3 separate regions of the Homo sapiens genome follow, and regions 1 and 3 are each reported to be linked to region 2. Evidence: microRNA targets listed by miRTarBase, many of them from high-throughput screens and not tested one by one. Region 2 holds a microRNA gene; each other region holds the end of a gene's coding sequence.

Region 1 (7,188 bases), not on the chromosome of region 2:
CTGGGTTCAAGCAGCTCTCCTGCCTCAGCCTCCCGAGTAGTAGGGATTACAGGCACGTGCCACCACACTTGGCTGATTTTTTGTATTTTTAGTAGAGATGGGGTTTCACCATGTTGCCCAGGCTGGTCTCAAACTCCTGAGCTCAGATGATCCACCCATCTCGGCCTCCCAAAGTGCTGGGATTACAGGCGTGAGCCACCGTGCCCGGCCGGATCTATTCTTTTCAAACGAATGAAATGTTAACTTTCTTGGTACACTTCCTTGGTATAATGCTGAACTCGTATAGTAACTCAAATGGGTATCTGCATAGATACAGGGGTTTTCGTTTTGTTTTTCCAATTTGCAGGAAATTATAGTGACTAGCGTAATAAAAACAATCAATGACTTGGGAGACAAAGGAATCCCTGAGTATCTCTCCTCTCATGCCCTGTGAATGAATAACAACTTTATGGCTTAGAGTCCTCCTGTCTTCCCTTTTCACCCCTCTAGTCCCTCCTCCGTCCATTTCTTGAAGGGAACTATGAGTGTGATAGAAGGTGGAGTGGGGATTCCCTGTGGCCTGAAACATTTCTTGCTTAGTCTAACTCAAAAGATCCTTTTTCATTTGTTACCAAAAATGTATTAGGTCCCTGTTGAAGGCTAGGCATGGGGTAACTGGTAGGGGAATACAGATATTTTTGAGTTCATAATCTGGTCATGTGGGAATTGCTATCTTTGTGATTTTGATTATTTCTTCCAGATTATTTTATTCAATAAATCTAGGAGACTCTGGGTTTTAAGGAGTCAGCATCTAAAAGTGATCTTGCAAGCCATGCAATGAATACTCAAAGTGTAGAGTAGTCCACAGAAAGAATAGGGAAAACCTAACATTTCTGTAAGATTTAAATTTCAGTATAAAATCTGGAACATTCTACTCGCAGTAGTATTTTAAATGTTGTATTTTCGTGAGTTTGTTAACCTTCGTTTTTTGTTTTTGTTTAACATTCTTGCATTTTAAATCAGGTGCAGCTATTGCTGGAGTTTACCGAGCAGCAGGGAAGGAAATGATACCATTTGAAGCCCTCACACTGGGCACTGGACAGACATTTTGCGTCTTGGTGGTCTCCTTTTTACGGATTTTAGCTACTCTATAGCATACATCCTTATGCTGAGATGTTGAACTTAAACTTTATGGAATCCTCCAAAAGAATACATTATGGAGTGTAGTGTTTTCTTAGTTCTTCAAAGGGAAGCAACTTGGATGAACAGGAACATGAAGGACAACACATCTCAGCCTTTTCTTCATTTTGAAGCTCCTAGAATTGAAGACTTATGTGGACTCCTATTGTTCTCAACCAAAACAAGTCTTTTGGCTTTCTTTTTTGTAGATATTTGATTTAAGCAGTTTTCATGTGTACCTTTACCCAAGCCAAGTCAACAGTGTCTCTGGGGTGGCATCCTTTGCACTGAAATTTACAGTATTCTGTGAGATGTCGCATATTTTGAAGAAACCGTGGAAGATACTGGTTTATTTCAAATGAGCAGAGTATGTTGTATTAAAATCTTATCTAATCTTGATTAAAATTTGGCAAACTCTTTTCTTTGCTACATCTTAGTGACAATAAATGCCAAATAGGTTTTGGTTGAGTATAGTTTTGAAAACAAATTTGGTGAAATAAAGCAGGAAAAAAAATTTAAGTATAACTCAAGTAGTGGCTTTGGTTCCACTGTTTATAAATAAAAAGTAGATAACAATGAATAATGTGACATTTTCTGGACAACTGTCTTGACTTCTGATTAAGATATTTTAAGAGATGTGAATTTGTTATTTTGTATGTTTTATCAAAATAAGCTAGCTAATTTAGACTTTTTAGATTTTCTGTACCACCTTTCCCTATCACTTTTAATTCTCTTAATTTTATTTCATTTAATTGGAAACATACATACCCTATTAAATGGCTTGAGTTGGAAATTTTAAGCCAGATTTGTTTGGACATTGAGGCACACATAAGATACTTTAGGCATTCTGTCATAGTTTTTCTTAGTGACTTTGGTATACTAATGACCCTTGAGAAACTATAGAAGTGCATCTGAAACTAGAGTTAGTGGTTATTGATTTTTTAGCTTAATGTGTTTACCTAGTGGTAACTCTTCAGCCCACTTTTACAGTATTGGGTATCAACTCCCAGAAAGTGCCTAAAGTTTAATGTTCAGATATGTACCCACTCTCCCCTTTACATTTTTATTCAAAAGAATTTATATCTTTAAAGAGATTTAAATATCAAGAGTTTTTTTAAAACTTAATTTTAGCTATTTAAATTTTTATTCTACTGCCTAACTTTCTTTTTCATTAAAAGGCCTGAAAACTGTGACTCTTTGAGAGGGAAAGAATCGCAGAAATTAAGTATTTAATGTGATCCTTTCCACCTAAACTGTTTTGTATGGAATACAATCAGTGTGGTGGTAGTGGTGGTGGTTATCTGCAAAATAGTTTCTGGTGATTAAATCTGACTTTTTTTTTTTTTTTTCTTTTAAATGAGACGGAGCCTCACTGTGTTGCCCAGGCTGGAGTGCAGTGGTGCAATCTCAGCTCACTCCAACCTCTGCCACCCGGGTTCAAGCGATTCTCCTGCCTCAGTTTCCTGAGTAGCTGGGATTACAGGCACCTGCCACCGTGCCCGGCTAATTTTTGTATTTTTAGTAGAGATAGGTTTCACCATCTTGCCCAGGCTGGTCTTGAACTCCTGACCTTGTGATCCACCCGCCTCGGCCTCCCAAAGTGCTGGGATTACAGGCGTGAGCCACCGCGCCTGGCCATAAATCTGACATCTTTAAAGGAAAGTTTTCATTGTGAGATTAAGGCTTAACAGCCCATGAGGTCATATACACATGAACGTATCTATTCCATTTAAAGCAATACACACTCTGGCTTCTGATTAAAAATAGCCAGGAGGAGAGTCTCTGAATCTACTGTGATTCTGGAGTCTGCCCAATTTGGAAAAAAAAAAAAAAGAAAAAAGTCAGGAGGACCAATTTGCCAGGGAAACTCATAGAAAAGAATTACAAAGAGATCACAAAAACTGGACATATTCTTTTGACTAATTAGACCACTTATGGCTGGGCGCAGTGGCTCACACCTATAATCCCAGCACTTTGGGAGGTCGATGTGGGAGGATTGCTTGAGCCCAAGAGTTCAAGACTGGCCTGGGCAACATAGTGAGACCTTGTCTCTACTACAAAATAAAAAAAAATTAGCTGGGCGTGGCCTCAGCTACCCAAGAGGCTAAAGTGGGAGGATCACTTGTGCCTGGGAGGTTCAGGCTGCTGTGAGCCGAGACCACGCCACTGAACTCCAGCTTAGGCCACAGGGCAAGACCCTGTCTTAAAATAATATTACTAATTTTGGTAATTAACTTATCAAAACTATAGTGACATATACACGGGCAGAAACTTATAAGTAGAGTTGTAATGCAGCCAAATATTCTTACAAATTCCCTAACAAGAAGCTCAAATCTTTCTCACAGGCAAATTGTAAAAATTCTAGTTTTTTGTTTAAAGAGCTGTGATTTTCAAAAGTATCCCTTCAGTTTAAGAAATCTGGGGAATTGGTAACTTTTCTTATGGGAAATGATTGCCATCATCTCTACTGAAGGATGCCTCTTACTGAAAAATGTCTTTTGAAGGAGTTCTTGCCTAAAGCATTCTTTGGATGTAATTTCATACACTAAACATATAGACCAGTAGTTAGTGGGCCCCTCCTCTTAAACAGTAACTTTTGAAGTACTGATACATGATTAAAATGTTAGATATTTTTCACTGGAGCTAAGACTTAAAATTAGGGCATTTTGAAAGGTGTATTTGTTTCTGTTTCTTGTTTGATATATTTTGGTTATCTACTCTTTTAAAAAACTAAACGTATAAAAGGTATCTTCAAATTACTGAGTGTTTCATCCATCCCAGTAGGTGAAGTATTCTCCAGTGAATAAATCTATATATATATATAGATTTTAAATAGCTTGAGCGGTGTAGCTTGAAATGTTTTCAGGGAAAGACTATTTGAATCATAAGGAATAGCTTTGATTTTCTTTTTTATGTCTCAAATATAGAATTATTTGGGGGTGGTCACTCAGATGGAAGAATATTGGCAATTGTGTTGAACATTTTACCTTATATAGTTTTGAGAATTTTTGCCAAAAACTGATTTCTTAGAAATATCCTCCCCCAGCTGTGCTTTGGTTTTTTGGTTTTTTTGTTTTGAGACGGAGTCTTGCTCTGTCGCCCAGGCTGGAGTGCAGTGGCATGATCTCGGCTCACTGCAAGCTCTGCCTCCCGGGTTCACGCCATTCTCCTGCCTCAGCCTCCCGAGTAGCTGGGACTACGGACGTCCACCACCATGCCCAGCTAATTTTTTGTATTTTTAGTAGAGACGGGGTTTCACCGTGTTAGCCAGGATGGTCTCAATCTCCTGACCCGCCTCCACCTCCCAAAGTGCTGGGATTACAGGCATGAGCCACCACACCCGGCCTCTGCTTTGTTTTTTAAAAAAAAAGAAATGCAAGAGAGGGAGGGAGGCAGCCTCCTGACCATAAAAGCTGATTTCTTGATTTTTTTTTCTTTTTTTTTTGAAATGGAGTCTTGCTCTGTCTCCAAGGCTGGAGTGCAGTGGCATGGTCTCAGCTCACTGCAGCCTCCGTTTCCTGGGTTCAAGTGATTGTCCTGCCTTGGCCGCTGAGTAGCTAGGATTACTGGCACCCGCCACAAGGCCCAGCTAATTTTTGTATTTTTAGTAGAGACAGGGTTTGATTATGTTGGACAGGCTGGTCTCAAACTCCTGACTTCAAGTGATCCACCCGCCTCGGCCTCCCAACGTGATGGGACTATAGACATGAGCCATCATGCTTGGCCTTCTTGATTCTTGAATACGGGGTTTTGAGGTGAAAGCATTTCATGAAAACTTAAGTTCATACACAAGAGCATCATGAATATTCTAAAAGAGGTATCTGTGCTTTTTTTGTGACCACAAAATATTACTTCTTATGAAATGTTTACACTAGGTGAGGAAAAGTTCATTAATTACCTTTAAACCGTTCCTTATTTTTTTTAAGATTTTAAATTGTATTTTGGCTTTTGCCTCCAGTATCCTTTCTGGTTGCTCTGGTTTGAATTAAGTTCCTATTATGCTGCAGCACATATCAACCTTCCCTAAGTAACCATTTCCTGGAATGTGAAGCATCGGTGCCATTAGCAGACCATATGCAGAAATGTCGTGTACTTGCATTTCTTTTTTGTGCACTCTATAAGGCTGGTTGTGACTCAGATCAGCTTAACTTTTTATATTATGTTATTTCACTAACTGCTACAGTCAAAATGATCAAATCTTTGTACAATAGAAAATTATTTAAATTTTATTTTTCTACTGACATTTCTAATTCTAGTGTAAATGTTTATCAATAAAAAATTACTTTCAATTCTGAGTTGGAATTATATTTCTTTTTGGTGGCTAATGAGTTTAATCTTTTGTAATAAAATTGACTTCAGTTTTCATTTTTTAAATAACTTAATATCTAGCATGTGTAACTTTTTTTATGTTCTACTTCTTACTAATTTATGATAAAATTCTTGTTCAAAGTTGTGATTAAACCGTACTTAACATGTGAACTTGAAATTCTTATTAACTCTACTTGCTGGGCCATATATTCCCATCAAGAAACTTTTGTTTGATTCTGTGCAGGAATAGGTGAGTATTGATACAGTGTGTGAAAATGTATTATTTTAATAGTAAGTCCACATGAAGAGAAGCTTCGTCGTGTTTGGTTAATTTAATACCCTTGGTGACATCATAAATCTCACTGTTCTGCCATTTTTAACAAATGGGACTAAGTTGGGTAGTTTACCTCATGGTCACAAGATTGCTGCAGTTCCAGCCATTGCAGACACATACAGAGAATGTCTGGCAGGAGATTGCCCATTCATTCCTTCTAATTTTCTAAAGTTGAGGTTTAACATGCAGTAAAGTGTACAAATCTTAAAATGTATAGCTTAATGAATTTTACATATATATATATATATATATATATATACTTAATGTGACTAATAGATCAAGAGACAGAATGTTTCTAGCACCCCGGAAAGATACGTACACAGTTCAGACAGAAGACCCCAAGACTGTATATGTATCTGGGAGTAAAGGTGCTGAGATCGGCAGGGAGGACACCCTAAATTATTACCGAGAAAACAGAACAGTGAACCAGGAATCTTTAGGGAGTTGGAGGGATTTGTGCTGTGGCCAAGTGGAGAGCCCTGTCCGAAGGAGTCAGCTATTGCTTGGCTCCAGCCTGTTTCTGCTTTATTCGATGATTAACCCAATCTTGCCAGATACTTATTTTCAAGAGAAGCTGGAAATCTAGGTTACTGTTTGAAATCTCTCCATTTTTAAGTGTTAGCAACTAATTTAAACTTGCGTAAAACACTTTTATTATTTATTTATTTATTTAGAGACACAGTCTCGCTCTGTTGCTCAGGCTGGAGTATAGTGGCGCGATCTTGGCTCACTGCAATCTTCACCTCCCAAGTTCAAGTGATTCTCCTGCCTCAGCCTCCCAAGTAGCTGGGATTACAGATGTGCGCCCCCAAACCTGGCTAATTTTTGTATTTTTAGTAGAGACGAGGTTTCACGGTGTTGGCCAGGATGGTCTCGAACTCCTGACCTCAAATGGTCCGCCCACCTTGGCTTCCCAAAGTGCTGGAATTACAGCCGCGAGCCACCTGTAATTGTGCGCCTTGCCGTAAAACACTTTTAAGTCATTACAATACATGATTTTAAGCTGGATTTGGCCTGCTCACCACCAATTTTTTTTCCATCTCAACTATTAGAAAGTAATTCCCACTCTGATTACCCTTAAAGCGGTCAGGAACTCTAGTTGTAAATCTGAACAATCACATGGAGTGCTAGGAGAAATGGGTGCTGGGGAGTGTCTGCCAGAGAACGCAGTGGCTCCTGTTCCCCAGACTCACCCCCAGTGATAGGGCAAAAGGGTACATCCTGATTTGTGGCTGTAGGACACCATTTATGCTGTCCAAGGTAAATGACGCCAAGAATGGTCAACTTCCAAATACTGGGTTCAAATTTTACATCTATTTTTCTATTACTCTCCCATAAGAAAAGTGTGCTTAGGCCGGGTGCAGTGGCTCATGCCTGTAATCCCAGCA
Region 2 (7,188 bases):
CTGCCCTGAGCCCTGGCTTCAGGGAGGGCCAAGCACCCTACCCCAGAAACACCACTGCGGCCTTCTTTCTGAGCCTTGTTTCCCAACTAACTGGGCCGGTCACAGCAGCGAGCGCAGAGGACTCCCTGTGCCAAAGGGGACGATAGAAAACAACCCAATCGCAAGATGAAGGGATGGGGCAGAAAAGCACGCCTCTTCTCCTGCCCCTCCGCAGGCATCTTCGTGGGTCCCGAACGTCTTAGACTTCCTCTAGAGAAGCCGGGACTTCAGGGCGCAGAGAAATGCCCTTTGGTCCGAAGCATCTGGCAGCGCGAGGAGTCCCTGAGGTAGCCCCAGGCTGGAGGGGGACAGAGAAGGCCTGGACCCTGCTCTCCCGGGGCGGCTCCCCGGTCCCCGGCCTGCACCGGGCCGCTTGACCTCCACCCGCCGCCGGCTTTTGCTTTTGCTTTCTCGGCGCCTCCTGGCCCCGGGGCGCAATCGGCCCGCAGTGCCCTGCGCACTGGGCCCCAGAGGCTGCTGGACCGGGCCCTCTCGGCACCGGGCTGCGTTAGGTCCATTCGCCCGGGTCTTTTCTTAGTTAACCGAGTGGTGTGGGGACCATAAAGTGCACGTCGCTTCGGGCCGGATTCAGTTTTTCAGTGCAAGAAAACCGTAACCACGGCCCGCCGGGCTCGGGCCCTGCTCTCGTGGCCTCAGCCCCGCCGTGTCCCCGCAATGCCGGAGCGAGGCGGCTGCTCAGGGGCCGCTGCCTACTTCCTTGCCCGCAACACCTACCCGAACACACCCGGCGCTGCGCTAACGCAGCTGCCCTGTCCCGCGAGCCCCGATGTGTGCGCGGCGCTCTGCACACAGGTGAGTTCCCTCGTCGCGTTAAAGCAAGTTCTGATGGCAAGTCCTGGACCACAAAATAGCAGGCTCGGGAGGAGAGAGGGCGAGCGCTCACACCTGCCCACGAAGGCGGCCGTCGGCGCTTTGATGTGCTGAGCGGGATGACAGAAGCCCGAGCTCCTTCCTGAAGTGCTCGCAGGGCTTAATGGAGAACTCCAGGGCAGCCCCTGCGCCGGCAGGGGCACATGGACCATGGCCACCAGGCCCAGGAGCGGAGGGCGCGGCCCTTGGGGTGTGCTGGGGGAGGGAGGGTCGTGCTGGGTGTGTGCGCGTAGACATGTGCTGATCTGTGTGCCGGGGAGACTGCCTTGGCCACCCCCGCGCCTCGCCGGGCCCCCAGGCCTCAGTGGGCGGCGCGCTCCCAACTAGGCCCCGCGGGGTCCCGGTGCATCCGGCCGGCTCCTCCGAAGCCTCCACCGCTGGCGCTCCAGGGAGATGGCAACAGGGCCGGGTGGGTATCCTATAGGGACGGGAGCAAGACAGCGAGGAAGGAAGGGCAGAGGGTCCCTGTCGGGCGTCAGGCCCGAGCTATTGTCTCCCCCGGGCGTTCCCAGACTCGGTCGGGGGTTCTGCGAGGCTCCCAGGGAAGGCCGGCCGCGGGAGGCCGCTGGGTAGGGGCACAGAGGCCGGCTTGCTTTGCTGGGCAGTTTTCACCCCCTCCAAGACAGTAATGTATCCAGATTCCGAAGTTTTGGGAGCTTGTGCCTGCGCCCAGTGTTATGAGGTGGGGCGAGAGCAGCCTTGAGGAAGGGTCAGGAGTCTCTTTCCTGTGTGCTTTTTTTTCTTCCTAGAGTACGGTTTCTCCAAGGCTGCTAAGCCTCAGAGTCCGGGTTCAAGTTGAGTGGATCTGCCGGGAGAGGAGAAGAAGGGGAGCAGGGAGGGCAGCTGGCAGGCTGGGAGAGGAGCAGGCAGGCGGGGAAGGGAAGGGGCCAGTGCACCGAGGGGTGTGTGTGTGTGTGTGTGTGTGTGTGTGTGTGTGTGTGTGTGATTGACAGCCGGTCCAAGGGAATACAAAAATAAGAGGGGAAGGCCGCCTGTATTGGTTACTTGTTGAAATTCCCATAAAATTGAACAAGACTCTGTTCTCAGTGGGTTAAGTCAGGCTAAAATCCTCTCCGGTGTGGTCCTGCCGAGACTGTCTTTGTTTGGTTAACCTCTGAGACCCACATTTAAAAGGCCTATTTGGGAAATTTCACCGTCCAGGGAACCAACATCTTTTGCCCATTTCTGGGCTTTCCTTCTCCCCGGGTGCTCCCGCTGCACACCGGCTCAGGAACACATAAAGCATGCATCACCCTCCAAGCCACTGTCTCATTGCTGTGGGAGGCCAGTGTGAGAGAGTAGCTTGGGGCCTTGCCTTTGACTGGCAGGCCCATGGGATTTTAATCTGCAGCCCTAGGTGCTCCGAGCGAGGGGTTAATGTAAGGGTTTATCTCTGTTCTTCACATTAACCTGGTCAAATATTCAAATTCCCTCTTCCATCCCTACCGTCCCCTCCCACCTTTCACCGCCTTCAGCAAGTCAATAATTTTTCATAATCTGCAACCAGAACAATGTAAACCAGCCACACTACAAGTGGCATCCACAGGGCAGGCGCATTTCTCAGGGGAGTCCTAGCAGGGTCCTTCAGGTCCTGCCACCCAGGACCTGTATCATCAATGTGGGTCCATTGTTGGGCGGGGGGGGAGGCAGGGAAGGGGAGGAGTCTCCAACAGTTTGGTGACCCCCTCCACTGGCAAATGTCCCTTTAGTGAAAGATCCTGGGATCCAGCTCTGTCCCTCCCACCCCCTCCTCTTAACACTTGCCCAGCTGCAAACATCTCGCTGCAGACACCCCAACATACAGAACATATCTGATTCTGACATTTACTTCGGGACAGAAGTACAGCAAAATGAACGCAAGGAAAAAAAGGGACAAAAGGAACTAGACACAGCTTCCTGACCAAGTTCCCCAAAGGCCAGATGCCTTCTCTCCAAGCTAAGTGAGACTCTGAACGGGAGACCTGCAGTCTCCTGCACAGGGATCCCCAAAGAGCCCAGGAAGGCAGGGGACTTTACACCACGCTCACAGCAGCCAGACAATTCTGAAGCTTCGGCTGCTGGCCAGGGATACTGGGAGGACAGTAAGACCCTGATCCCTGCTCCCACGAATAAGATGCCGGCTTTCCCCAGCATCTGCTTTTCCCAGTGCCCTCAGACCTCCTAGCTTCGGGGTCCCTGTTTGTGGGAGTGGCAGTGGCCGCCAGCCCTGGAGGCCTAGAAGCGGTGCGCCCAGCTGGCTGGGCTGGAGCGTGCTGCGTTACCTGAGAGGTCCTCGCGAGCGTTCTGGTGCAAGTAGCTCTGCTCCAGCGAGTAGGAGGACATGCTGGAGTGCAGGCCTGCCGAGGCGGCGGGGTTGCTGCTGGGCGTCAGGGCAGGCGGCTGCTTGAGGTAAGGCGAGGCGCCAGGCGAGCTCCAGTGCGCCGCAGGGCTCGTGTAGGGCGAGTGGCATTCGATGGCGCTCGCCATGGCCGGGGACGAGGGTACCGGGCTGCTGCTGCTGTCCGGCCCGTAGTCGCCGCCGCCGCCGCCCCCGGCCGCACCGACGCCCCCGGGTCCCGCGGGCACCGGGCAGCTGGCCATGTAGGTGGAACCCGGGTTGGGCGACATGTGCGGGACGTGGTGGTGGTGGTGGTGGTGAGGGTGCGCGTGGCTGGGGGCGCCCGCGCCGGCGTCGTAGCCCGCGGGCATCATGTCGAGGCCGCCGTAGCCGCCCTGGCTGTGGCAGCCGAGCGGCGCCGACGGGGGCGCCTGGAAGTCGAAGCCCTGGGGCAGCAGCGACGCCCCGAAGCCCAAGCCGCTCACCACGCGGTGGTACATGGGCTTGAGCGCCTGGCACTTCCGCCTGAAGCCGCGCGGCCGGCGGCGGAACGAGCCCTCCTCGAACATGAACTCGCTGGCCGGGTCGATGGTCCAGTAGTGGCCCTTGCCGGGCCGCCCGAGGCCCTTAGGCAGCTTGATGAAGCACTCGTTGAGCGAGAGATTGTGGCGCACCGAGTTCTTCCAGCCCTGGTAGGCGCCGCGGAAGAAGGGGAAGCGCGCCTGCAGGAACTGGTAGATCTCGCTGAGCGTCAGGCGCTTGCTGGGCGAGCTCTGGATGGCCATGACGATGAGCGCGATGTACGAGTAGGGCGGCTTCTCGGGCCGCCGCAGCCCCGAGCTCGCCTTCTTGGCGCCCCCGCTCCCGGCGCCCGCGCCGCCGCCGCCCGCGCTCTTGCAGGCAGCCGAGGGGGCGCTGGCCGAATTGGAGGAGGACGAGGACGAGGCGCAGGAGGCGGAGGACGACGACGAGGAGGAGGAGGTGGTCTCCGGGGCGGCGGCGGCGGCGGCGGCGGCGGCGGGCGGCGGGCTCATCAGGGCGGCCTGGAGCGCGCCGGGGACCGGGCTGCACGCGCGGCGGAGCGGGGCCGGCGGCGGCCCGCCCTCGGTGGTCATCTGGGACCCGGGAGCGAGGCCGGGCCGCGAGGGCGGGCCCCGGGCGGGAAGCGGAGGCGCCGGAGCGGGGTCGGCCCAGAAGCCCTGCGAGCGCCCTAGCCCGCCGCCCGGGCTGCAGCCGTGGCCACTCCGGGCCAGCGCTTCGGCGTCGCCTCCCTCAGCTCCTCTGGGGCTTCTGGCGGCGGCGGCGGCGGCGGGCGGGAGGCAACGCCCGGCGCATCCCTCCCCGAGCCGCGGGCCCTGCCTTGCGCAACGGCCTCCCAGGCCGCGGGGCCGAGCGGCCGGCGCCGGGCGACTGCGCCCGCGAGTGGGACCGCGGCCTGGACCCCGGGGACGAGCCCGACGTCTCCCTTCAGGAGCGCTCCTCGCTCTGTCTCTCGGACTTCCTCCCTCCCTCGCCCTCCCCGGCCGCCCTCCTCGCTCCCTCCCTCCCTCCCTCCCCCCCCACCCCGCCCTGCCCCCTCCTCGCTCCGCGCCGCCGCGCTCACTCCTCCCCCTCCCGACCTGGCGGCCGCCTCCCTCTCTTATCTCGCTCCCCGCTCTCCAGGGTCTCCTCGCTCTTCATTCCTCTCGCGGCCTCCTCCCCTTTCCCTCACTCACCCTCTTTCCAATTGAGGGATCACAGACTCACTCCGGTTCTGCCAGGGGGACGACCCCCACCCCTCGCAAAACTCGACCACCTCTGACTTCATGAAATATTCTTTCTGTTTGCCCCCCGCAGCAAGCCCCGCGTCCCATCCCAGGACCCAGCCCCGCCCCTCCGCGCCCCCTTCCTCCTCCTGGCCCGCCGGGCCGAGTGGTGCTGCTGCGGGTGCGGCTGCTCGGAGCCTCCCTGGCCGCCCTCCCCAGGGCCGATACTGACTCCATCTGTCAACTTCGTTTAGACTTTGCCGCCCTCAGCCACACGCCGGGGTGCCAGACGCCCAAAGGTAACGTGCCAATCCTCTCTCTTTCTGGCAGGGCCTGCAGGCTCCCCGACAATTGTTAGGGCGACTGGGGGCCGCCGCAGGGTTGCGGGCCGCTGGCGATCGTGGACGTTTTCGGAACTTTGAGCAGAGGGATTTACACTGAGAAACCTAGGCCAAGTTTCAAAGACTCTGGAAACCTGGATCTCATGGGACTTAGGGTTGCATTTGCTTCCACTTCTTCCCCCCACCCCCGCACCCCAGTTAGTGTTCTGTAAGAAAAAAGTGCAAAAGAAAAAGGAAGGAAGGAAGAAAAGAAAGAAAGAGAAAGAAAAAGAAAGACCCTGAGATAAGCGAGATGGCTATATTTATAGTCAGTCCTGAAGGGGTGTGCAGCTGTCACTAGGTTTACATCCTCCGTCTTAACATTGCCCACCCAAAACTGTGCCAGGTCTCAGCTAACTCCTGTCCGAGAACACTTCTCCCCAGTTGTGGCTAATTCCTCCCTAAGTAAGAGTCAGGCTCTGAGAGAGATGTGCCCTCGGGAGCAATCACTTCCAATGAGACCCGACAGTTAGTTATTGGATTACACGTGCAGGGAAATGTAGTCCGACCAGGGATAGGAGCTGGGAGAGGGAGGAGGAGAGCAGGAGGCCGGAGCTGGCGGGGCCTCCCAAGGGCTGAAGGGGGAGGCCCAGAAAGAAGGTGCTGCAGACCAGCGGACCAAACAGGAGGTAGAGCTGGGCACCCCGCTGCGTCTAGGCTGAAAGGACCGAGGTGCACGGGTGTGCCTGCTGGGGAGCCTGGGGAGTTGCAGGAGGCAGGAGAAAGGGAGGTTGTGCAGTAATCAGGAGGAAGACACCAGGCAAAGAGCCTTCACAGCCGCACAGCCTAGGCAGGCCCCCTGGGGCGGCAGGAGCCCTGTGTGCCCCTGGAGTGCCGGGGGACTGCTCCTGGCTGAGTGTGCTGGTGGGGCTGTAGATGCAGAGAGGGCGGGTGGGGAGGGGAGGGGTATGTGGGAGGGGGGTGGGCCGGGGCTGGCCCCAGACAGTGACCTGAGGTTGAGTGGAAGCAGGCTTTTTCCATCAAACCCTGCCTGGATACCACACACAGAGACCGAGTGTCAGTTTACTGCCCTGAGCCGGCTCCTTCTCCCTAAGCTCCACAGTAATTAGACAAAGAAAACCTAAATTAGCTGAACAGGCGTCGACAGCTTCCTCCAGAGCACCCCTGGTACCTACATGGGAATGTGTCCGAAAATGGCTTGATTGTAGCCGAGAGTCAGCTAAGAAAACACCGCCAAACCGAACTCAGTTTACCACTCATTTCCAATAGAAAAAAGAAACAAGTCGCTCTTTTCCGGGTGGGATGTTTTGATTGGGTTGGGGTAGGGCTTCGCAGTTGTTTCCACTTTCTAAGAATTTCTGACTGACTGCTGAGCGTTTTTGGGGGGTGCGTCCCCATATATTTCATGGTATTTTTTTCTCTTGCCCTCATTTGTCATTTTGTGTGGAATAACTTAAAAATACATAACTAAATATGAAAGTAAATATAATGTGTTCACTAAACCAATGCTCTAAGTGCCTAAAATATAATTATTTTCATAAAATAGAAGCTGGAGTGGGGAGGACAGATAGGATCTTAAAGGAGCTCTACTGACATAGAGTTCAGTGTGTGTGTGTGTGTGTGTGTGTGTGTGTGTGTGCTTTAAATGGAAAGAGCCCAGGGGAGAAGCTTGTGGGGGAAAAGGACAATTATCTCATTTGTAGGTGGGGGCGGTGGGCAACGGGCTTTGGAAACATTCAGTACTCATTGTCACTTAGCCATGGACTCTCTCTGATTCTCTGTGCCTGAAAATTATATGTATTTGGATCTCAGGGAATACAGATCCAACTTGTTAAGAGCAGGCCTTAAAAGGTTT
Region 3 (7,188 bases), not on the chromosome of region 2:
GGGCAGGCAGCCAGGCAGGGCGGGCGCCATCACCTGAGCTCCCAGGGTTGCTGTCTGGGGCATCAGAGGGGCCTTCCGGCCTTCAGTGCCAGGCTGTGCCTCAAGCTCCCCCAGACCCTGCAGCCACACCGGCCCTGCCCCATGTGTGGCCCGGCTGCAGGGCTCGGGTTGGCTCAGGTGGGGGCTTGGCTGCGGCTCTTCTGGCTGGGGTTTTTCTGAGGAACGTTTATGTAACTGCAGCACTAGGAACTCCCGGCAGGGCAGGAAGGAAGTGGGGAAGACCACAGGTTTCTGGAAAGCCGCAGGAGCTGCAGCTGTTCCCCCGCTGCCTCTTGTGTGACTACTTCTGCTGGGCCCCCCTCTCCTTGACAGGCCCGGGCAGAGCCACGCAGCGGTGCTATGGATGGAGTACCACCTGACCCCGGAGTGCACGCTCAGCACTGGCCTCCTGGAGCCTGCAGACCCCGAGGTAGTGCCTGCGCACCGGGCCCAGTGTGCGTGCAGACCCTGAGAGCAGGCGCCGCCTGGGGAGGCCTCCCTGCCCCCATGCTCTGGGTGTTTCTGTCACAAGTTCTTCGGGCCAGATGATGACCCCTCAGTGGTCCTGGGCCATCTGGCCCCTGAGCAGCTTCTCTCTGCTGCGAGCTGCCTGGGCTGGAGGCTGGCTAGGAAGGAGGCTCAGGTGCCAGGGAGCCCTCACCATCTTCCTGCTCTTCTTCCTACAGGGGGGCTGCTGCTGGAACCCCCACTGCAAGCAGGCCGTCTACTTCTTCAGCCCTGCCCCAGATCCCAGAGCACTGCTGGGTGGCCCACGGACTGTCAGCTATGCAGTGGAGTTTCACCCCGACACAGGCGACATCATCATGGAGTTCAGGCATGCAGATACCCCAGACTGACCACTCTTGAGCAATAAAGTGGCCTGAGGGCTGGGGTTCTGAGTGGCTCATGGCTTTCTAGCGGGGAAGGCTGAAGGCCCTCCTCTCCTCTCTGGGAGCTGCTCGGCCTCAGGGATGGGAAAGACTGCGCCGTGTTGCATCTTGTTGCATCTTTGCACTGCTGGCCTCTGGCTCCAGCTGTGGCAGGAAGCATGAGAGGGTGACTGAATTTGGAGCCCTGGAGGGGCTGGGAAGACCCCCCTGCTTGTGCTTCTGAGGTGCTGAGAATGCTCCAACACAGAGACATCTCTCCCCAGCTGGGAAGGGAGTGGAAGCACAGGGAGCTTGTGGGGCTGGCCGGTGGGGTTGTCCACGCCGCCCTTGGCGAGCAGTCCCCGTGGCGGGAGCCTGTCCTGTCTGTCTCACTCTCGAGGATCTCCGGGTCCCTGCTCTTCTGGCTTCTGCTAGGAGGGTGGAGATGCTGAGTTGTGGCTGGGTCTCTGGGGCTTGAAGACCCTGGCTGGGCCCGGGCTGAGAGGCCTGGGTTCTGGCCCTTTCACCTGACAGGTAACTTCAAGCCACATCCATAGGTGTCTGGCCTCAGTGCTGCACCAGCTGGTGGCCTGCCAGGACCTGAGACTGGACACAAGGCAGCTGTCCCAGAGCAGTTCCTGAGATGCAGGCCCAGGAAAGTGGCTGTCAGGGGAGCTGGGAGGCAGCCCTGTTCCCTGCACCTCCCTCAGATTGGAAAGCCCCTCCTGCAGGTGGGGTATGGCAGGGAGCAGCCCCTGCCCAGCGCCGCTTCACCAGGAAGGTCAGTAGGTGCCGTGGCCTTGCTTCTCTCACACACTAACCCCCCTTTGGTTATGTCCCAGCTCTCAGAGGTAACAGCAGACACCACGTGAGAGAACCCAGTGGCCTCTGGCTCGCAGCTTAGAAGGTGAGGCTTGTGCCAGGCCAGCCGAGCCGCCTGTATGAGCAGAGTTCCGGTGTCCTCGGATTCAGGGCAGACTTGGGCAGTGCCTGTCCTGCAGTTGGGGGCAGGAACTCCCTCCCCTGCCCCCAGGCGTGCCCCTGAGGCCTGGCCCCAGCTTGTCGCTGAAATAAGTGGAGAACACCAGCCTTGAGCCTCACAGTTTTATTTTCTCCTCGTTATCCATCCTTCCTTTCAGCACCAGTAAGGAAAAAGAACACCTCTCTTCGCAAAATATTTTATCAGGTGTAAAGACTTGTTTTTCTTCTAGGGAAGAACCGTCTGGATATATATTTGATAATGTTTTTACCAAAACCATAGGTGTGCTTACCATAGAAAACCCCTAATGTCCCATGAAGATACAATACAGAAAAAAATACAGAAATTAAAAAAGTTTTTATAACAGTATTTCTAAATCTCAGCAAGTTAAAAAGCAATAGTTAAAAAGCATCAAGATTAATATACTTAAAACTTAAGGTGGTTTTGGACAAATGAAAATGAACATTTCCTTCCTCAGTGGCCCCCGCGCCTTGTGGCTTCCTTTGAGACTGGGCCTAGGGCAGGAACAGAGTCTTGGTATGGGCCTCGGGTGACCCGTGTGCCCACCCCTGCTAGGCCTTAGATGCCACAGAATCTGAGATCCAGCAATGGTTCACTTTAAAAAATCAGTGGAAGGGCCTGGCCTGCACACAAGGCCCGGGAGTCCATAGGCAGCCACAATGAGACACGTGGGTGGGGGGGTCCCGGTCTTGGTGCTGAGGGAGGTGTGCGGGGGCCTGGGGGCCGCACATCCTTACTCTGGACCCCAGGACCTGACTAGGCAGAGGCGACCTTGTGATGACAGAAAATGACTTGCCTAAGGCCGCCTGTGAGGTGGGAGGGGAGGAGCATGCAGCCCTGACTCCCACGCCTGCTGCCCCGGGAGGGGGTGCCTGGGTGGGGAAGCTATGTTGGGGTCTGGTGTGGGGGCCCTGCCCGGGCCTCAACTGCTCTCCCTGTGCAGGCAGTCGGCAGGCGGCTCGGGGTCTAGGGGTCCAGGGCCGGCCGGCCCAGTCGCTTGTGTGAGCAGAGTACCAGCTGCTTCTGGAAGTTGGGGGCCTCCACATCATGAATCCCAGTCAAGGCTCACAGGCCAGCCCCTTGGAGGGGTGGGCCGGGCAGAGAGCCCAGCAGGATGCTCGCCCTCAGCAGCCCCTTCCTGGCTCTGGACTCTGGAGGGGCAGGGCTTGGGCCCGGGCAGACGGTGCTTCCCAGGCCAGGTGAGTTCAGACAGGCCAGTGTCACAAGGACGCACGTCCTAGCGCCAGGCTCCCTGGGCTCTGCAGCGTTGTCTGCCCCAGCACAGGGCCAGGCATCTGGCTGGCTGCGTGGCCCCCTCTTGGTCCCTCTTGCAGCTCAATGGGTGACAAGGCACAGCATCAGGGCACCAGCACCAGGAGGGGCTGACAGCAGACAGCAGGTCCTGGTGCTCCCTCCAGCCTCACCAGGCAAAGCCGGCCCTGGGCCAGGCTGGGTGTAGGGCCAGGGCGCCACGAGGAGCGGAGGTCAGCGGGGATTGTCAAAAACAGTCCCTCAAGTTGAGTCTCGAACTTTGAAACAGACAAAACCTTCGCTGCATGACAGGAGCAGCCCTGGAGTCTCTTAAAGGCAGGTGGGCAGAGGCAGTGCTGCCGAAGGGGCCTGGGGGCTGTAGGCATCTTGGGGCTGGAGGCAGATCGGGGACCACAAGCTGTTGGCCAGCTCTGCCATGCTGAACTTGGGTGCCAGTACCACACCCTGCCCTGGGCATGCAGCAACTGTCAGCCTTGCTGCCCCAGCTTGCGCACTGGTGAGGGCCAGGCTGCTCTCTGCACCTTGGCTTCCTGCCTCCTAGGCCGGGGTCCCCTTGTGGCCTTGGTGTTGGCTGGGGTAGCTGTTGAGGATGGGCCTGGGAGGCCAGAGCCGCAGCCCCACCCGGGGGGCAGGCAGGGGTTCCTGAGCTCAGCCGGCACGCAGGTGGGGCACGTCCCCAGGGAGGGATTGGTCCCGAACCAGAGAGGTGTCCCGTGGGGGAGAGGATTGGCAGAAAGAAGAGGATGTGTTGGTTTTGATAGAAGAGAAGCTACAAATAGATTATTTTCAAAATCAGGATCCCCCCCACCCCCGTTTATGCTGTGAGTCCCTTCTTCCTGTAAAAAAAAAAGTGGATACTCTCTTCTCGGATCCCCGTTTATGGCTCCACTGCCCAGATGGGAGGCTCCCGGAGGAGGCCCAGGGTGCCAGAGCCTGCCAGACTCTGTTGTGCCTGAGCTGGGGAAGGGACCCTGTCTCGGGAAGAGCAAAGTTCTATGAGTGACTTACAGACCCTGTGAAGTGAGGGTTGGTTTTGTGATTAACCTTTTTCTGTTTTTCTTTTTAAAATGTAATTGCCCTTGAATGCGAGACCCTGGGAAGAGCCCTGGGCTGGCTGGTAGAGATGCAGCCCTCGGACCCTGCAGGAGCCGGCCCACACTGGAGGCGGGAGAGCTGGTGGCCGTGCCCAGGAAGTGCTTCTTTGGCTGGTTCTGATTGTGTTTGGAGTTTGGCCTTGGGTGAGGCCCGAGCAAGGGGTCTGTGGCTACAGCGTGGCACGTGGCATGCGGGCAGCGTGCATGCGAGGGTGCAGGCATGCGAGACGACATTGGCAGCAGACAAAAATAAAGAACCCTGGACGAAGCTTAAGAGGAGATACAGAGAGTACACGAACCCGGTCCTCATACTAACCCACGGGTTACAAACTCGGTTGTGCTGTAGATTTGTAGAAAATCGTGTTGTGAAAGAATGGCACTGGTTAGGCAGCTGGAGGCTCCTGGGGCGGGCCTGACTCCTCTGTCCACAGTGAGGCCCAGAGGCGCAGAGCAGCGCAGCTTCCAGGTTCCCGGGCACTGACTGTGGCTCCCTCCCTGTCCCTGCCCTCCTCCCCCAAGCACCGGGCACTCGATGGAGGGGACATGGCCCAGGGATGGGCTGCAGCTGCAAGGGCTGGCAGAGGCCCCGCTGCTCCGGACGGTCTATGCCTCCTCCTCCCCCGAAGACACCATCAGTCGCATGGCTACTGGCAGGTGGTCCGTCAGGCCGGACAGCTGGGTGATAAAACTGAATTCTTCCACCTCCTGGGGTGAGTGGGAGAGGGGAGAAACAGCCTGGTCAGATTCCAAGGGCATCTTGCAGGGAGCGGCCTGGGGATCCCCAAAGTGAGGCCCCGGGGCTGGGGTGGGCTGGGACCTTCCTGCAGTCAGAGGGATGGGGCCTGGAGGACCTGGGGCCCTAAGGGTCTGAGGGAGTGATGGGTATCATTGTAAGAGTGGCCTGGGGCGTGGGGTTTCAGGGAGCGGCTGTCGAGAGCTGCAGGGCCCGGGCCCTGCTCTCTCTTTGCATGGCCCTGGCTGCTGGGCCCTCCTGACTCACGGCCTTCCAGTCTGGGCACAGCCCCTCCTCTGCATGCAGCATGTAGTCGATGCGCCGGCCGTTGCCCTTCAGCAGCTCCTTCCGCCCCTTCTGGCCCGAGCTCTTGCTGGTGGGAAACGCCAGGTACTCCCTGCGGCCCTCCTCACTCTCCAGGACCCTGTCCACACATGCAGGAGGCAGGTGGGCCCCCATGCCCGCCCCTGTGGGCCTGGCAGGGGCTGTGTGTGGAGCCATGGTCTCCTCCCAGTGTGGGAGCGGGTGGGTGGGACCAAAGCGCTGGGTTTAAGATCTCTCCCCTGCGGGTCCAAAAAGGGCCTCAGCTGGGGGTAGGCCGAGTTGCCTGTGGGTTCCTGGCTGAATCTGGGCTCCGGAGCCCGTCGAAGTGTTCTGTCCGCCCCAGCCTGGCCAGCACTCACTTTCCCTTTCTGAACTCGGACAGAACTGATCCCACCCGTTCCCCAGAATGGGCTTCTGCCCTGAGCCAACAGGGGCCTGTTTTGAGGAGCTTGGTCTTTGCCATGAGTCTCGGGGACCCTTGTGACTGTTCCCAGGTTGACAGGAGCTGAGGGAGCCAGGAGAGCACCTCTGAGGAGTCTCAAATGGGGCTGTCCCTACGTGGCTGTGTGACTCTGCTTATGTTACCAAGCCTCCAAGCCTCTGTTTCCTCCTCTGAAACAAGAATGGTTGCTGTGGGCCCCAAGACGCTTCAGGGAACAGGCTGTCATCCCGCTTCTGAGTGAGGAAACCCATGATGGTGCTAGGGGATCCACAGGGAGGGCAGGGCGCTGGAGCAGGGGGATGTGACATCTGGAATCCCTTTCTGGCACTGTTGCCCTGAGACAAGCAGTATGCCCGTCTGCTTCCTGCCAGCCTGTCCCCTGGGGCCTCAGCACCACTGGGCCAGAGGCTTAGGACCCCCTCCTGGGAGCCCCCATTGCAGAGGGCAGGCTGGGGCCAGGGCCTGGGATGGCAAGTGCAGTGGTGAGAGACCCTGCAAAGGCCGCCAGGTCTGTGAGTGCCTGGACGGATGCAAAAGGGGCACCCGGCGAGGCAGGGCCTGCAAACATGGGCTTCCACAAGGTTTTCATCAGCCTTAAGATAAATACACTAATGACATTCAGGACATTGTTACAGCTCAGAAATGGAATCCATCACTGTCCTTTGCCCTTGATAATTAATTCCAGCATCAATGATCTGAGAGCTACTGGTAGTCATTTTTAAATCATCATCTCATAAAAAGAATTTTCTCAGCATAGGATGATGTTTCAAATTTAGTCTATAATCTAATTAATTGGCTCAAATTAGCTGCAAGGAACCATCGCTGTGACTGCAGTCTCGGGCTGTGAATTATAAATTGGTTCTGCTGTTGGCCTCTCAGATGTGTTCTTTATGGACATCTTACTGGGCTCAAGAATGAATTTTGGCTGGGATGGAACTGTCTCTACTTTGAAAATGGTCGGCTGTGTTATTGCAGCTGGTGTCTGTATTTGCCTGATTGGTGCTGCAAGCTGCCAGGCTGCCTTCAGCAGGCGCCGTACCCAGCAGCTCTTTCATGGGGGTCGACCTGTGGCCTGGCCCGGGGGAAATTCCAGGCCCTTTCCTGTACCCAGCAGGCAGGGGCTCGGGGCAGGGCTAGCTCCTGAAAACAGGTTTGGGAAATACCCCTAGAGATTTAGCAAGGCCAGTACCCCTGGGCGTGAGGGCGTGAGGTCTACCTGCCTGGCCCAGCTCCCAGCTCTCAAAAGCTCTCAAAGGTGAGATGAGGGACAGGTTTCTGCCAAATAAAAGCCCTCATGAGCCCGAGCTGAGCTCTCCCATGTGGGTCCTGCCCAGTCCCTGTCTCCACCTTAGTCAGGGTGTGCCTCGTCCCTGGCCTGGGAGCGCAGTGCTTACTTCTGCAGGTTGTCGGGGGTG

What was found. Region 2 holds the annotated microRNA hsa-miR-6720-5p (UUCCAGCCCUGGUAGGCGCCGCG, at 3,929-3,951, shown strand). A microRNA usually pairs through its seed, bases 2 to 8, with sites in the 3' UTR of a target mRNA and lowers its output. Matches are read on the target gene's strand: a 7mer-m8 pairs with bases 2 to 8, a 7mer-A1 pairs with bases 2 to 7 and ends in A, and an 8mer does both.
Region 1: the mRNA of TMEM170A is a reported target of hsa-miR-6720-5p. Seed matches in the 3' UTR shown: 7mer-m8 at 2,543-2,549, 7mer-m8 at 4,262-4,268 and 7mer-m8 at 4,630-4,636.
Region 3: miRTarBase lists PRMT7 as a target of hsa-miR-6720-5p. The part of its 3' UTR that is shown has no 7-base or 8-base seed match.

Annotation. Positions count from the first base shown.
Region 1 is chr16:75,441,503-75,448,690 of GRCh38, reverse strand. TMEM170A (transmembrane protein 170A) reads left to right here. Exons shown (of 3, transcript NM_145254.3): 3 at 1,003-5,637. The coding sequence ends at 1,133. Among named protein-coding and RNA genes, the nearest start is that of CFDP1, 12 kb to the right of the region's middle.
Region 2 is chr6:1,387,122-1,394,309 of GRCh38, reverse strand. It overlaps MIR6720 (microRNA 6720), which reads left to right and starts at 3,899; the gene lies at 3,899-3,996. It overlaps FOXF2 (forkhead box F2), which reads right to left and starts at 4,734. Exons shown (of 2, transcript NM_001452.2): 1 at 3,192-4,734. The coding sequence starts at 4,362. FOXF2-DT (FOXF2 divergent transcript) reads left to right here and starts at 4,849. Exons shown (of 3, transcript NR_187218.1): 1 at 4,849-5,291. RefSeq lists an enhancer at 2,687-3,552.
Region 3 is chr16:68,356,329-68,363,516 of GRCh38, forward strand. PRMT7 (protein arginine methyltransferase 7) reads left to right here. Exons shown (of 19, transcript NM_019023.5): 18 at 373-469; 19 at 726-2,256. The coding sequence ends at 896. SMPD3 (sphingomyelin phosphodiesterase 3) reads right to left here. Exons shown (of 9, transcript NM_018667.4): 7 at 7,168-7,188; 8 at 5,275-5,431; 9 at 1,999-4,979. The coding sequence ends at 4,878. Among named protein-coding and RNA genes, the nearest start is that of PRMT7, 49 kb to the left of the region's middle. RefSeq lists enhancers at 264-423, 6,240-7,052, 7,053-7,188.